Regions from separate parts of the Homo sapiens genome. Here region 2 is linked to region 1. A link means that fine-mapping ties the variant in region 1 to the expression of a gene that starts in the linked region. Tissue or cell type: lung. Region 1 holds a variant in brackets; the other region holds the start of a gene. All regions are shown on one strand. Distances are from middle to middle.

Region 1 (8,103 bases):
GTGAGTGGGTGTCCAGGAAGTGCCCAAGGAGTTGCCTCCAGGAGAATGAATCACTTAGTGGGAAAATAACAAAAGCACTTACTTGCCAAGACGGTGAAGACACTTTATCCAGCAACTGAAAGCGTGTCTTTTTCCACTGCTGCCCTGATGTTGTCACTGGCAAGGAGACTGACTGCAGAAGCCAAGAAAAGGATTCTTGCCCCTTAAAAAACCTTTTGGGCCACAGATGGTGGCCCGGGATGCTTCAACACTCTATGGGGGCGCCGAGATCTGCGGATCACTTGAGGTCAGGAGGCTCCCTGCACTTAGAAGGCTCAATGGAAACTTCCCCCAGTTGAAATCCTGAACCCGGTATCCCTTTTGCATCAGCAGAGCCCTCTGCCTTCTTAGTGAATGATCAGCTACTGAGCCTCAGCTGGGCCAAGAGGCATTTATTGAGTGTTCTGCATATAGTACATAAGGTCTGTGGAGTGAATGTCTGCTTCATTGAGAAAATAAAGGTTTTGGCCAGGTGCGGTGGCTCACGCCTGTAATCCCAGCACTTTGGGAGGCCAAGGTGGGCAGATCACTTGAGGTCAGGAGTTCAAGACCAGCCTGGCTAACACGGTGAAACCCCATCTCTACTAAAACTACAAAAGAAAAAAAAAATTAGCTGGGCGTGGTGATGTATGCCTGTAGTCCCAGCTACTTGGGAGGCTGAGGCAGGAGAATCCCTGAGCCTGTAACACGGAGGTTGCAGTGAGTCGAGATCACGCCTCTGTACTCCAGCCTGGACAACAGAGCAAGACTCTGTCTCAAAAAGAAAAAAAAAAAAAGGTTTAGTAATTCCTTAATTTCTTTCTCTTCTTCCTCCAAGTTTTATATGCATTTGTACTCTTTCTTTCTCTCACCTCTTCCTTCCTTTTTCACATACCATAACATTCATCATGTTAAAGTATACAATTCAATAGCTTTTAGGATACTCACAGAGTTGTGCAACAATCACTACTATCTGATTCGAGAAACTTTCCATCACCCTAAAAAGAAACTCTGTTCCCATGAGCAGTTGCTCCCCCTTTCCCTTCCACCCAGCCTCTGGAAACCACAAATCTACTTTCTGACTGTACCTATTTCTTATTCCGGACACGTCATGTAAGTGAAATCAAAGGATATGTGGCGTTTGTGACTGGGTTCTTTCACTTAGTGTAATGTTTTCAAGGCTCACCCATGTTGTAGCATTCATTAGCACTTTATTCCTTTTTATTGCTGAATAGTATTCCATTGTATGGATATACCACTTTGTTTATTACAGACATGTGATTTCCAAATGTCTTCTCCTATTAGGTGGGTTGTCTTTTCAGTTTTTTTGGTAGTATCCTTTGAAGTACAAAAGCTTTTAGTTTTGGTAAAGTTCAACTTGTCAAACTTGTCTGTTTTATCTTTTGTTACTGTTGACGGACATTTGGGTTGTTTCCACCTTTTGGCTATTATGAATAGTGCTGTAATGAACACTTGTATACAAGCTTTTGTGCAGATACATGTTTTTATTTCTCCTGGCCATACGCATAGGAGTGGAGTTGCTAGGTCATATGGTAATTTTATGCTTAATCTTTTGAGGAACCGTCACACTGTTTTACAACATGGTTTTGCCATTTTATATTCCCACCAACAATATATGAGAGTTCCAATTTCTCCACGTCCCCACTCACGCTTTTCATTGTCTGTGTTTTTGGTTTTAGCCATACTAGTGGATATGAAGTGCCGTCTCATTGTAATTTTGACATGCATTTCTCCAGTGATTGATAATGTTGAATATCTTTTTGTGTGCTTATTGGCCACTTGTATACCTTTTTGGAGACATATCTATTTAAATCCTTTGCCCATTTTAAAATTCGGTTATCTCTTTTTTCTTAAATTATAAGAGTTCTTTATGTATTCTCATATCAGACCTTTATTAGACATGCGATTTGCAAGTATTTTCTCCCATTCTGTGGGTTGTCTTTTCACTTTTTTTGGTAGTGTCCTTTGAAGTACAAAAGTTTTTAGTTTTGATAAAGTCCAGCTTATCTGTTTTTTCTTTTGTTACTTGTGTTTTGTGTCATATTTAAGAAATCCTTGCCTAACCCAAGTTCACAATAATTTACTTCTATGTTTTCTCTATGAGTTTTATAATTTTAGATCTTACATGTAGGCTTTGATCCTTTTTGACTTAATTTTTGTATATGGTGTGATGTAGGGGATTAAACTTTTTTTTTTTTTTTTTTGGATGTGGATATCCAGTTGTCTCAGCACCATTTGTTGAAAAGCTATGTCTTTTCCTCATCGAATGGGCTTGCCACCTTGTCAAAAGTCAATTGCCCATAAATATGTGGGTTTAGTTCTAGACTCTCAGTTTTGTTCTCTTGGTTTATGTGTCTGTCCTTGTCCCAGTACCACTTAGTCTTGAATCAGAAACTGTGAATCCTCTAACTTTGTTCTTCTCAAGATTGTTTTGCCTATTCCGGGTCCCATGCATTTCCATATGCATTTTAGGATCAGCTTTTCAATTTCTGCAAAACAGGCAGCTAGAATTTTGACAGGGATGGTGTTGAGGCTGGGCATGGTGTCTCACGCCTGTGATCCCAGCACTTTAGTAGGCTGAGGCGGGCGATCACCTGAGGCCAGGAGTTCAAGACCAGCCTGGCCAACATGGCGAAACTCCATCTCTACTAAAAATACAAAAATTAGCCAGGCATGGTGGCATATGCCTATAATCTCAGCTACTTGGGAGGCTGAGGCAGGAGAATTGCTTGAACCCAGGAGATGGAGGTTGCAGTGAACCGAGATTGTGCCACTGCACTCCAGCCTGGGAGACAGAGCGGGACTCTGTCTCAAAAACAACAACATTGTGTTGAACTTGTACATTAATTTGAATAGTATCGCCATTTTACCAAGTCTCCCAATCCAAAAACAGGCGGCATCTTCCTTTTATTTATTTCAATGATTGTAGTTTTAGATGTGTATGTCATTCCTTCTTTTGTTAAATTTACTTATAAATATTTTATTCTCTTTCATGTAACTATAAATAGAATTGTTTTTTTAATTTCATTTTTTGGATTATTTCTAGTGTATAAAATACAGTTGATTTTTATATATTGGTCTTGTATCCTTCAACCTTGTTGAGCTTGTTTATAGCTCTCATAGTTGCGCCAGTACATGTGTGTATGTGATTTCTTAGGATTTTCTATGTACAAGATCAAGTCATCGGTGAACACAGAGTTATACTTCTTCCTTTTCAATCTGTATGCCTTTAAATTATTTTTCCTGCCCAGTTGCTTTGGCTGGAAGCTCCAGTACAATGTTAAATAGATGGGGTGAGAACGGACATCCTTGTCTTTTTCCTGATCTTACTGGGAGAGCATTCAGTCTTTCATCATTAAGTCTAATGTTAGCTGTGGGATTTCTGTAGATGTCCTTTATTAGGTTGAGGGAGTTCTCTTCTACTCCTTCTTGTTGAGTATCACGAAAGTTGTTGGAATTTGTCAAATGCTTTCTCTGCATCTATTGAGATGATCGTGTGGTTTTGTCCTTTATTCTATTAACATGGTGTATTACATTGATTGATTTTCAGTGTTAAACCAACTTGGCATATCCTGGAGTAAATCTTGCTTGGTCATGGTGTATAGTCCTTTTTATATGTTGCTAGAGTCCACAAATTCTTTCTTTCTCTCTTATGTACCCTCCTTGTCTCATAGGTTTATTTTTATCTAGCTTCATAATATATGTTTATTTACGTCATAAAAATAATCCATGAATCTCATTCCTTTTTTTTTTTTTTTAGACAGAGTCTCACTCTGTCACCCAGGCCGGAGTACAATGGTGCAGTCTTGGCTCACTGCAACCTCCACCTCCTGGGTTCAAGCAATTCTCGTGCCTCAGCCTCCTGAGTAGCTGGGATTACAGGTGTATGCCATCACACCCGGTTAATTTTTGAATTTTTAGTAGAGACAGGGTTTCACTGTATCGGCCAGGCTGGTCCCAAACTCCTGACCTCAGGTGATCCTCCTGCCTTGGCCTCCGAAAGTGCTCGAATTACAGGTGTGAGCCACTGCGCTCAGCCCATGAACACCATTTCTTAATACTAATTCCCTCGGTTTAACAAAGTAGAACATGCAACATCAACGTCTCCTGCTTCATCTTCCCAACCCCATTCCTACCACCCAGAGGTAGTGATTTTACCACTCTGTTTTGTGTCTTTTCTGTTGTCAGTATTACACTAAATCACTGTTTCTGTCTTGTTTGAAATGTTTGTTCCCC[G/A]GTGCCATGAAGAAATAGCACTTGAACATTAATTTAATTCCTCAGCAAGGCCATTTTTATACTTTCTGCAGAAAGGGTACACTCATCAGCAGTTTTGCCATGAGAGCACACCAAACAAAGGAGACAGGGTCATTTATAACCTGACGTGTCTTCCCTACTGCTGTGTCTGGTTTCCACTGGCTTGAGCAGGACCTGACATTCTGTATTTGTCCCGATTGGCTAGCAACTTAGAACTTTTTTTTTTTTTTTTGAGACGGAGTCTCGCTGTCACCCAGGCTGGAGTGCAGTGGCGCGATCTCGGCTCACTACAAGCTCTGCCTCCAGGGTTCATGCCATTCTTCTGCCTCAGCCTCCCGAGTAGCTGGGACTTCAGGCGCCCGCCACCACGCCTGGCTAATTTTTTTGAATTTTTAGTAGAGACGGGGTTTCACTATGTTGGCCAGGATGGTCTCGATCTCCTGACCTCGTGATCCACCTGTCTCGGCCTCCCAAAGTACTGGGATTTCAGGCGTGAGCCACCTCACCCGTCTGCAACTTAGAACTTTTTAAAAGAGGCAAAGGCAGAGGAGAACAAAGGAAGGAGGAAGTAACTTATGGAATGCTGAAAAAGGTAAAAACACCTTCAAATAAGGAAGAGGAACAGGCCATGCTTGGACCAGTATAAGCATGCCAGGGCATATATTTAGGCTAAATTGTGGGAGCTAAGAGCATAAAGTACATTGATTTCTTTATTATGGCTGGCAGATATTTAAGAATGTTAGCATAGGTCTTTGAATAAATTTTGCTTCTAAGAAAAGTTACTATCTATTCCTAATTAGACAGGGAGGAAAGTCTTTGAAGAGGAACCTCTACTTTACTTTTTACAGTCTCATATTTATTGATTTATCAACATCTGACTGTATCCAGAGTAAATAATTTTCAAGCTAGCTCTCTCAGCTCCCTTCCCACCTGTCTTCTCCCCAAGTGTCTGTTATCTGTCTGTTTTCTTCTAGTGGTAGGGTAGATTGTGTTCTCAATGTTGGACGCAACGAGATGTCCCATCCTACGTGCTCTTTTGCAGTATTAATTTGCTTTCCCTCCATTAAGAGGCGGAGTCTAGTTTCCCTTCCCTTGAATTTTGGCTGGCCCTGTGACCTATTTCTATCAATAAAATGCACGAAAAGTGAAAATGTGTACCTTCCAAGGCTGGGGTTCTTTTTGGTTTTGTTTTGTTTTTAAGATGGAGTCTCACTCTGTCGCCCAGGTTGGAGTGCAATGGCACGATTTTGGTTCACTGCAACCTCTGCTTCCTGGGTTCAAGCAATTCTCCTGCCTCAGCCTCCTGAGTAGCTGGGATTACAGGCACGTGCCACCACGTCAGGCTAGTTTTTGTATTTTTAGTAGAGACAGGGTTTTGCCATGTTGGCCAGGTTGGTCTCAAACTCCTGACCTTAGGTGATCCGCCCGCCTAGGCCTCCCAAAGTGCTGGGATTCCAGGCGTGAGCCACCGCGCCTGGCCCCAAGGCTGGGTTTTAAGACATCTGCAACATCTATCTTCAGTTCTTGAGAGGTTCCTTCTTAGAACCCCTTCCCTGAGGAAGCCTGAGCAGCCTGGAGAGAGGCTCACAGGAGAACAGAGGTCCCTGGCCAGCAATCCCAGCTGAGCTTAAGCTGGCTGATAGCACCCACTGCCAGTCATGCAAGTGGGCCATTCTGGAGTCTCCAGCTATCCCAGTGCTTCAGCCACTACCATGAGAAATAGCACCCGCCAACCAAGTGTGACTTGCCTTCCTGGCCCACAGAACCACAAGCAAATAAAATAGTTGTTGCTTTAAGCCGCTAAATGTTGGAGTAGGTTGTTACACGGCAATAGACTGAAACAAATGGTTACACTATAATTCTAAATTCTATACTTAAATTTCTGTTGATTCACTTCCTACTATGTAAAATGTGTTCATCCTGTTATCTCCCCACATTTCCCAACCTCTGTGACTATATCCTTACTTTTACTTTGTCAGTGTTTGTAATACTTACATTCTATCCTCTATAATAAATTATCCCATCCATATAAACATACTTTGCAATAAATTACTCTGTGCATTATCTAGATTTGCTCTGTCCACCGTGGTAGCCACTAGCCATGTGTGGCCCTTGGAACAGGGACAGTCTGAATTGATTTGTGTTGTAGGTGTAATATACAAGATTGCAAAGACTTAGTGCTAAAAACAATATAAAAGGTAAACTCTCTTATTAATAATCGTATGTTGGTTAAATGTTGAAATGGTAATATTCTGGATGTTTCATTAAAATATACATTAGGCCAGGCGTAGTGGCTCAAGCTTGTAATCCCAGCACTTTAGGAGGCTGAAATGGGAAGATCGCTTGAGGCCAGAAGTGTGAGACCAGCCTGGGCAACGTGGTGAAACCCTGTCTCTTAAAAAAATACAAAAAAATTAGCTGGAGATGGTGGTGTACACCTGTAGTCCCAGCTACCTGAGAGGCTGAGGTGAGAAGATCACCTGAGCCTTGGAGGTTGAGGCTGCAGTGAGCTGTATCATGCCACTGCACTCCAGCCTGGGGGACAGAGACCTAGTCTCAAAAAAAAACAAAAAAAAACCTACTTATCTATCAATTACATTAAAATTAATTCTATCTGTTTCTTTTTCCTTTTGTAATGTTATTAGGGGCGGCAAATATGTGGGTTACCAGTGGCAAATACGTATCGGTCTGCAGCTACCTTAATTCTTGCTTCCTCAGAAAAAAGGTTTTGACTGAGGGGCATAAGGCAGAAAAAGAGACCGAGGCAAGTTTCAGAGCAGGAGTGGAAGTTTACTAAAAAGCTTTACAGCAGCAAAGGAAGGAAAGCACACTTGGAAGACACCCAGATGGGCACCGTGAAGGTCAAGTGTGATGTTGGATCTTTTGACTTAGGGTTGTATATGCTGGCCTACTTCCAGTGTCTTGTTCCCATTTCCCTTCATCCTTCCCATACGGCGAGCTGCCCGCATGCACGGTGCCCTCTCTGCGCTTTGGAGGTGAGCATGCACAGTGTGTTTTAGAAGTTGTATGCATGCTCACCTGAGGCATTCTTTCCTTTTCTGGTGGAATGCCCACGAAGTCATACTCCACCATTTTGTCTCTTAATGTGCATGCCTAAACTCACGCGCCCAATTCCGGATAAATTATTGGAAGCTGCTGATGACGAATTTCAAGTGTTTTTATCTATTGAGAAATTGCCTCTCCTTGGTGCCTGTGACCAATTATTTAGTGTGACAACTGTGGGCCATCAGGAAATTGCCTCTCCCTAGCACCAGCTGCCAAATATCATTTTTAGAGAGGCAGTGTGACAACTGCCAAACCATCACCTGATGGTTGCCTGACATTCCTGGTGGGTGAGGGGAGCCCTCTCCTGCCCCACTCATGCCTGATTCAACTTCCTACTGTAACAATGTGGCTACTAGAACGTTTAAAATGACTTAATGTGGGCATGGTGGCTCACATCTGTAATCCCAGCACTTTGGGAGGCCGAGGAGGGTGGATCACGAGGTCAGGACTTCAAGATCAGCCTGGTCAAGATGGTGAAACCCCATTTCTACTAAAAATACAAAAATTAGCCGGGTGTGGTTGCGAGTGCCTGTAATCCCAGCTACTTGGGAGTCTGAGGCAGGGGAATCACTTGAACCTGGGAGGCAGAGGTTGCAGTGAGCCAAGATCATGCCACTGCACTCCAGCCTGGGTGACAGAGCAAGACTCTATCTAAAATAAATAATAAAATAAAATAAAATAAAATAAAATAACCTACGTGGTTCACGTTTCCACTGAGATGTGGGCTTTAGGAATTGAAAACCA
Region 2 (8,096 bases), 99 kb after region 1:
AACCCTGAAGACCATGAGGGAGCCTGTGGTTTGGGGATGGGTCATATGTCCCTGAGCAGGGCAGCTTCCTTCTCTGGGAGAAGGCTTGGTCACAGGGAGGCGACTGAAAGTAACACTGCTGATGGATCTCTTTCTACATAAAAGGTGCTGGGCTAGGGTGACAAGAATACATATGACATTATTCCATATACCAGGACTTACAATCGAGTGACAGGTATTGCGACCATCATTCCAATATGAGGCAAAGTTTGATAAGAACTATAGGAGAGACTGCAAATTTAAGAGAGACAGGTTGGGAACAGTAAATTCTAATTAGAAGACTTGATTATTATAGCTTTGTAGTAAGTTTTGGAATTGAGAAATGTTAGTCTTTCAATGTTGTTCTTTTTTTTTCCTCAAGATTGTTTTGGCTATTCTGGGTCCCTTGCATTTCCGTGTGATTTTTTTTTTTTTTTTTTTGAGACAGAGTCTCGCTCTGTCACCCAGGCTGGAGTGCAGTGGTGTGATCTCGGTTCATTGAAAGCTCTGCCTCCCAGGTTCACACCATTCTCCTGCCTCAGCCTCCCGAGTAGCTGGGACTACAGGCGGCCACCACCACACCCGGCTAATTTTTTGTATTTTTAGTAGAGACGGGGTTTCACTGTGTTAGCCAGGATGGACTCGATCTCCTGACCTTGTGATCCTCCCGCATTGGCCTCCCAAAGTGCTGGGATTACAAGCATGAGCCACTGCGCCAGGCCTCCGTATGAATTTTAGTATCAACTTGTCAATTTCCGCAAAAAGGGCAGATGGAATTTTGACAGAGATTGTATTGAGTCTGTACATCAATTTGGGGGTGTACTGGCATCTTAACAATACAAGTCTTCCAACCTATCAACAGGGGATAATTTTCCATTTGTTTAGATCTTCTTTAATTTTTTTGATGATGTTTTGTAGTGTTCAACGTACTTGTATTTCTTTTTCTTTTTTTTTTTTGAGACGAAGTCTCTCTCTGTCACCCAGGCTGGAGTGCAGTGGCACGATCTCAGCTCACTGCAACCTCTGCCTCTCAGGTTCAAGCGATTCTCCTGCCTTAGCCTCCCGAGTAGCTGGGATTACAGGTGCCAGCCACCACACCTGGCTACTTTTTGTATTTTTAGTAGGGACAGGGTTTCGCCATGTTGGTCAGGCTGGTCTTGAACTCCTGACCTCAGGTGATCCACCCACCTTGGCCTCCCAAAGTGCTGGGATAACAGGCATGAACCACCGTGCCCCGCCATGTCTTGTATTTCTTTTGTTAAATTTATTCCTAAGTATTTTATTCTTTTTAATCCTATTGTAAATGGGATTTTTAAAAATTATGTTTTTGGATTGTTTATTTCTAGTGTAAGAAATACAACTGATTTTTGTATATTAATTGTGTATCCTGCAACCTTGCTTAGCTCATTTATTATCTTTAATAGTTGTGTGTTTGTGTGTGTGTGTGTGTGTGTATGTGGATTCTTTAGGGTTGTTTTTTTTTTTTTTTTTTTGAGATGGAGTTTCGCTTTTGTTGCCCAGGCTGGAGTGCAATGGCGCGATCTTGGCTCACCGCAACCTCCGCCTCCCAGGTTCAAGCAATTCTCCTGCCTCAGCCTCCCGAGTAGCTGAGATTACAGGCATGCACCACCACGCTCAGCTAATTTTGTATTTTTAGTAGAGACGGGGTTTCTCCATGTTGAGGCTGGTCTTGAACTCCTGATCTCAGGTGATCTGCTCACCTCAGCCTCCCAAAGTGCTGGGATTACAGGCATGAGCCACTGCGCCTGGCTCTTTAGGGTTTTTGATATACAAGATCATGCCATCTGTAAGTAGAGATAGAGATAGTTTTACTGCCTCCTTTCCAATGGGGATGTATTTTCTGTTTCTTGCGTAATTGTCCTGGCTGGAACCTCCAGCACAGTGATGAAATAGAAGTGATGAGAGCAGAACACCATGTCCTATTCCTGAGCTTAGGGGAAACATTCAGTTTTTCACCATTAAGTATGATAGTAGCTATGGGTTTTTCATATATATACATATATATATATATATGTATATATATATACACATATATATACATATATATATGTATATATATATACACATATATATACATATATATATACACATATATATACACATATATATACACATATATATATACATATATATATACACATATATATATATATACATATATATATATATATACACACTTTTTTTTTTTTTTTTGAGACAGAGTCTTACTGTGTCACCCGGGCTAGAGAGCAGGGGTGCAATCTCGGCTCACTGCAACTGCCGCCTCCCAGATTCAAGCGATTCTTGTGCCTCAGCCTCTTGAGTAGCTGGGATTGCAGGTGTGCACCACCATGCCTGGTTACTTTTTGTATTTTTAGTAGGGACCAGGTTACACCATGTTGGTCAGGCTGGTCTCGAACTGCTGACCTCAGCTGATCTGCCCGCCTAAGCCTCCCAGAGTGTTGGGATTGCAGGCGTGAGCCACTGTACCCATCGGTTTTTCATAGATTTTTAAAAATCAGGTTGAGGAAGCTCCCTTTCACTTCTAGTTTGTTGAGTGTTTTATCACGAAGACGTGTTGGATATTATCAAATGCTTTTTCTGTGATTATTGAGTTGATCCTATATGTCTTTTCCCCATATATATATATATGTTTTTTTTTTTTTTAAGACGGAGTCTTGCTCTGTTGTCCAGGCTGGAGTGCAGTAGCGCGATCTCGGCTCACTGCGAGCTCCGCCTCCCGGGCTCACGCCATTCTCCTGCCTCAGCCTCCTGAGCAGCTGGGACTACAGGCACCCACCATCACGCTCGGCTAATTTTTTTTTTGTATTTTTAGTAGAGACGAGGTTTCACTGTGTTAGCCAGGATGGTCTCGATCTCCTGACCTCGTGATCCGCCTGCCTCGGCCTCCTAAAATGTTGGGATTACAGGCATGAGCCACCACGCCCAGTACCCGCTTCTGAATATTTTAAGAAGGGCATCTTGCCAGTGGACTCTAGTCCCAACTTAGGTCTCAACACAGCTAGGAGGGGAGATGTGTGACTGTTCTATTTTGTTTGTTGGCTAGTCTGACTTAAATACTTATTAGTATTAGTATTGTTATTATTTTTTGAGACAGTCTCGCTCTGTTGCCCAGGCTGGAGTGCAGTGGTGCAATCGTGGCTCACTGCAGCCTCGACCTCTTGGGATCAAGCGATCTTCCCACCTCAGCCTCCTGAGTAGCTGGGACTACAGGCATGCGCCTGGAATATTTTTGTATTTCTTTTTTTGTAGAAACAGGGTTTTGCCATGTTGCCCAGGAAGGTCTCGAACTCTTGAGCTTAAGTGATATGCCTACCTCGGCCTCCCCAAGAGCTGGCATTACAGGCTTGAGTCACCACTCCCAGCCTGAAGCATTATTATTATTATTATTATTATTATTATTATTATTATTATTAGAGACAGAGTCTCACTGTGTCACCCAGGCTGGAGTGCAGTGGCATGATCTCGGCTCACTGGGACCTCTGCCGCCTGGGTTCAAGCGATTCTCCTGCCTCAGCCTCCCGAGTAGCTGGGATTACAGGCACCTGCCACTGCGCCCGGCTAATTTTTGTATTTTTAGTAGAGACGGGGTTTCACCATCTTGGCCAGGCTGGTCTTGAACTCCGACCTCAGGTGTTCCACGTGCCTCGGCCTCCCAAAGTGCTGGGATTACAGGTGTGAGCCACCGCACCCAGCCAAAACACTATTATTAAAATCACTTATTTGTAAACAGGTAATATTTGCACATGATAAGTACAAATCATTTAGTAAAAAGTCAACGGTGACAGGCTTGCTTTGTTTTATTCCCTTTCGGCAAACAGGTGCCCATTTCCTCGCATTTTGTCTATGGTGCCTTTCTTGCAACAAAGGCAGAGATGAATAGCTGCTACAGAGACTCAGGGCCTACATATCAGAGAACATTTTCTATTAGGCCCTTTACAGAAACCTTCGCTGATTTTTTTTTTTTAGTATTTTACCATTTCAGACAATGTTGCTATGCTATCTTTGTATATCTGTCATTTTGCACATGGGAGTTTCTGTAGAATGAATCTCTCTATGTGGAAATGCTAGGTCTTAAGGTGTCAGCATTTGTCGTTTTGATAGGTGTTACCAAATAGCCCTCTAGGGAAGTTGAACTAATTTATACTGTCTTCAGCGAAGCATGCTTGGACCTGTTCCCCACAGCCTCCACTAACCTTGTTAACATCTTGATACTTGCCGATCCGAGAAGGGAAACACGATGCTCATTGTAGTTTTAATTTGCATCTATCTGATTATGAATAAAGAGTTAGCATCTTTTCAAGTCTAAAAATCTTAAAAACAAAACTCCTGAACTTTTCCCGCCCAACAGACTCAAGACTCGTGACCCGGCCGTTGGCACGACGCGGGACGCCGGTGTGGCAGTGGCGGAAGAGGCAGATATCGCGGACCACCCCCGCGCCCCCCAATTCCTTTCAACCAATTCCCTCCCAGCCGCGGAGCCCCGCCCCCAGTCCGCCTCTGGCCAGCTTGGGCGGAGCGCACGGCCAGTGGGAGGTGCTGAGCCGCCTGATTTATTCCGGTCCCAGAGGAGAAGGCGCCAGAACCCCGCGGGGTCTGAGCAGCCCAGCGTGCCCATTCCAGCGCCCGCGTCCCCGCAGCATGCCGCGCCCCCGCCTGCTGGCCGCGCTGTGCGGCGCGCTGCTCTGCGCCCCCAGCCTCCTCGTCGCCCTGGGTGAGTGGATCGCGCCGCCCTCTGCCCCTCGCCCCTCCTCCCCGCGCCGCTCGGAAGTTTGCCCGGCGCCCGCCCTCCACCTCCACTGTTGACAAACTTAGACAAAGCCCCGGGGACCGGGCTGGGCAGAGGGGCGGCTTCTTCCGCTGCGCCCTGGCGGGACAGGGGGATGCGGCCCTGCTGTCTCTGCGCTGGGGCTTTTGGGCTGGGACTCGGGACATCGGGTGACAGCCCTGCCGCCCCCAGGGATGCGGCTTACAGATAATGACAAAGGAATCCGCTGTGTCGGGCCTCTCTTTTCCCTGGTGAAAAATGAGGCCAGGGAACTGCGTTTGACTTTCGAACCCCTTCCACCTGGGAGATTCTAGGACTCTAGTATGGATAAGTCTTGTCTGGATAACTTTGTCCTGGCCATCTCCCTGCCAACTCCAGTTGGCTGGACAGTTCATTGGATTTTTGCGCTCCCAATTGTCCGTGCCTGGTCACATAAGGGAAGGGCCGGGGAGTCGGTGCAATGGACGCAGGCCGTAAGTGGGGCCCGGGAGGGGACCCAGAGGCTTCGAGGAGCTTGGAAGAGGGCTGCCTGCTGATGGGAGTCTCCTGACTCCCTCCCTCCCGCGGCCTTGGCCGGCTGCTGTATCTTCCCCGGTCCTCCTCCGCCTCCCAGGAGGCCTCCGGAGGCCAGCTGGGCCCCTTGCAGGCTGGACTTGCGGATGCCCCGTGCCATTCACCGTGGAGCGCTGGGAGGGAGTCAGGGCCAGGACTCTTTAGGTGGCCCCTCCATCATTTTCTCATAGAAATGGGATTGACTGAAGCAAGGTAGGTAACAGCTGAGCCCCAGCCCTATGTCCTGTGATCTGCCTGACCCTCGGGGCTAGAGCTTCCAGAGTGCTCCAAGCTCCCAGGAACTTGGGAGCTCCTGGCCCTCCCCGGCCACCATGAAAGACAGCTGGATCTTCTTAGCCCCTTTCTACTCTTCCCTGTACCCCCCAACCTGAACTCTGGCCAAATGTTACTGGAAAGTCCCCGAAAGAGCAGGACTCTGAAGTCCCAAAGATGTTTTTATACAGGGTGATGTGGCCTTTTCCAGAAGGAGGAAACACCATACCTATCTTACACACAGGTAACGTGGCTGGGTAGAGTACACCTTTCCCTTTCCCTTTTTCCCACTGGACCGTTTTGCCCTGGAGCAGTGTAGGGAGAGGGCCGGTGCAGTTGGGAGGGAAGAGTCCATTCCCAACCCAAGCCTCTGTCTGTGTCAATGCTCGCCCCCGCCTGCCAGGTCAGAGGAAGGATTACCTGCTATTTAAAGCCAATGACTAATAGCTCCTTGGGAGCCACTTTAAGCTCCTGAGGCCCCTGGAGGGGGAGCTCTGAGGGCAGATCGCTCATTAATGGTGTTGTTGCCTTCCCTGGAGTGGGATGAAGGGGCTTTGAGATTTCAGGAGGACTCTCCAGCCTTAGATGGGTGACTCTGAGGGGGAGGCAAAAAGGTTTTTTTTTTTTTCTTTTTTCTTTTTGAGATGGAATCTTGCTGTGTCGCCCAGGCTGGAGTGCAGTGGCGCGGTCTTGGCTCACTACAAGCTTCGCCCGCTGGGTTCATGCCATTCTCTTTCCTCAGCCTCCCAAGTAGCTGGGACTACAGGCACCTGCCACCACGCCCGGCCCGGCTAATTTTTTGTATTTTTAGTAGAGACGGGGTTTCACCGTGTTAGCCAGGATGATCTGGATCTCCTGACCTCATGATCCTCCCACCTCGGCCTCCCAAAGTGCTGGGATTACAGGTGTGAGCCACCATGCCCGGCCAAGGCAAAAAGATGTCTCATGTCTTGCTCCAAATGACAGATTTGGGTGTAGGGTCTGGGGCAGCCCTTCTGGGATGCTAATGTCGGCTAGAGGACTCCTGTTGGGCCCGGCCGACCCACCAGAGTCAAGGGATTGAGGACAGGCCCTCCTGTTCCTTCTCCTGTGTTCTCCACCACCGGGGCTGATAGTGTACATCTGTCATCCAGGTTCCCATCCAGAAGCCCTGGTGGCCTCTCCAGCCCTTGCCCCCTGGTGGTTCTGAAATCACCCTTCCTTTTCACTCCTCTGCCCTGACTTCCTCTCTCACCATGCTCTCCTGCTCTCCACCTTCACCCTCTTCAGTGGGATTTCTGCATTTCAGCCAGAGGGACCTGTCTGCAGCTACCAGATGCTCCCCACCCTGGGAGAGCTCAGCGGCATGTCTGCACATGGGCCTTTTCAGCCTTCTTCATCCCGCAATTGGAACTGACTTTCCCACTCCCATCTCACACTTGAGAATCTCTGTTTCTTGTTTCTTGTTTTTTATTTTATTTTTATTTTTTCTCCCCCCTGGTGGACAATGGTGAGGAGGGTGAAGGAAGGTTAAAAGCCACTGCTCTACGGGATGAAAAACTAAACTTGTCATTCTTCAGATCCCTCCCAGTCTGGCCCCAGCCTACCCTTCCAGCTGCATCTAACTGTGCTCCAACATACCACACCCTCTGTGCATCTGCTTTTCTTGGAACATTCTTTACTCATTGCCCAGTCTGGCACCCCCCTTACTTTGTCTTCTAGACCCAGCTCAAATATTCCCTCCTCTGGGGAACTTCTAATTCCCCAGCAGAAATCATGCCTCCAGTGACGGTCCATGCAGGCTTCTGGAGCGTTGGGCAATCTTCCTCATCTGTGGACTTGCTGGCCTCTTTCCCCTTGGCTTCTTGAGGCCTGCGCTGCATCTGATTTCTCTGTCTCGGGGGCCTAGCATGGTCATTGGCCCTCCCAGTGTTTCCTGGATGATCATCGTGCTGTTCCTGAGTCAGGGCTGCCATTGGAGGTGACATCTGTGACTGCAACCTGTGCCTGAATTGGTGGGCGGAACCTGCTCAATGGGCCAGAACAATGCTTCCTTCCACTGCCCCTGCCTGAAAGTCCTCATGGGCCTCCTTTGCAATCAAACTGCTGCCAAGAGACCTGCCCTGGACCTTGCCTGCCTCTCCAGACCCCAGCTGCCAGCTCTTCCACCAGTGGGCAGTGGTCCCCAGCACCACTGCCATTGTCAGCCAGCACTTTTCTGGACACTCCCAGGCCACTTGGAAAGCTGGGCGCTTCCCTTATGTGGGCCGATTCGCCTACACATGGACTTCCTTGGCTCTAGGCGGACTCAGGCTCCATCCAGCACACGGGGGAAGAGGGAGAGGAAGAGATAATGGGCGAGTTTGAGTGGAGGGTCCTTTTGGGCTGGACCCATCTGCTACTTCTCACCTGTGTCCCCAGCTCCTTCCTGATCATCTGCTCATCTTACCTGTCTCTGTCCCCAGATATCTGTTCCAAAAACCCC

The links. PIP is the estimated chance that this variant, and not a neighbour inherited with it, causes the effect.
Region 2: it holds the start of MFGE8, and the variant in region 1 is fine-mapped to the expression of MFGE8 in lung (TOPMed, PIP above 0.99).

What each region holds. Positions count from the first base shown.
Region 1 is chr15:89,008,765-89,016,867 of GRCh38, reverse strand. No RefSeq gene overlaps it. Among named protein-coding and RNA genes, the nearest start is that of CARMAL, 28 kb to the left of the region's middle. The variant G/A (reference allele first, on the strand shown) is at 4,276.
Region 2 is chr15:88,909,904-88,917,999 of GRCh38, reverse strand. MFGE8 (milk fat globule EGF and factor V/VIII domain containing) reads left to right here and starts at 4,621. Exons shown (of 8, transcript NM_005928.4): 1 at 4,621-4,753; 2 at 8,077-8,096. The coding sequence starts at 4,681. RefSeq lists a cis regulatory region at 1-174 and an enhancer at 4,880-5,411.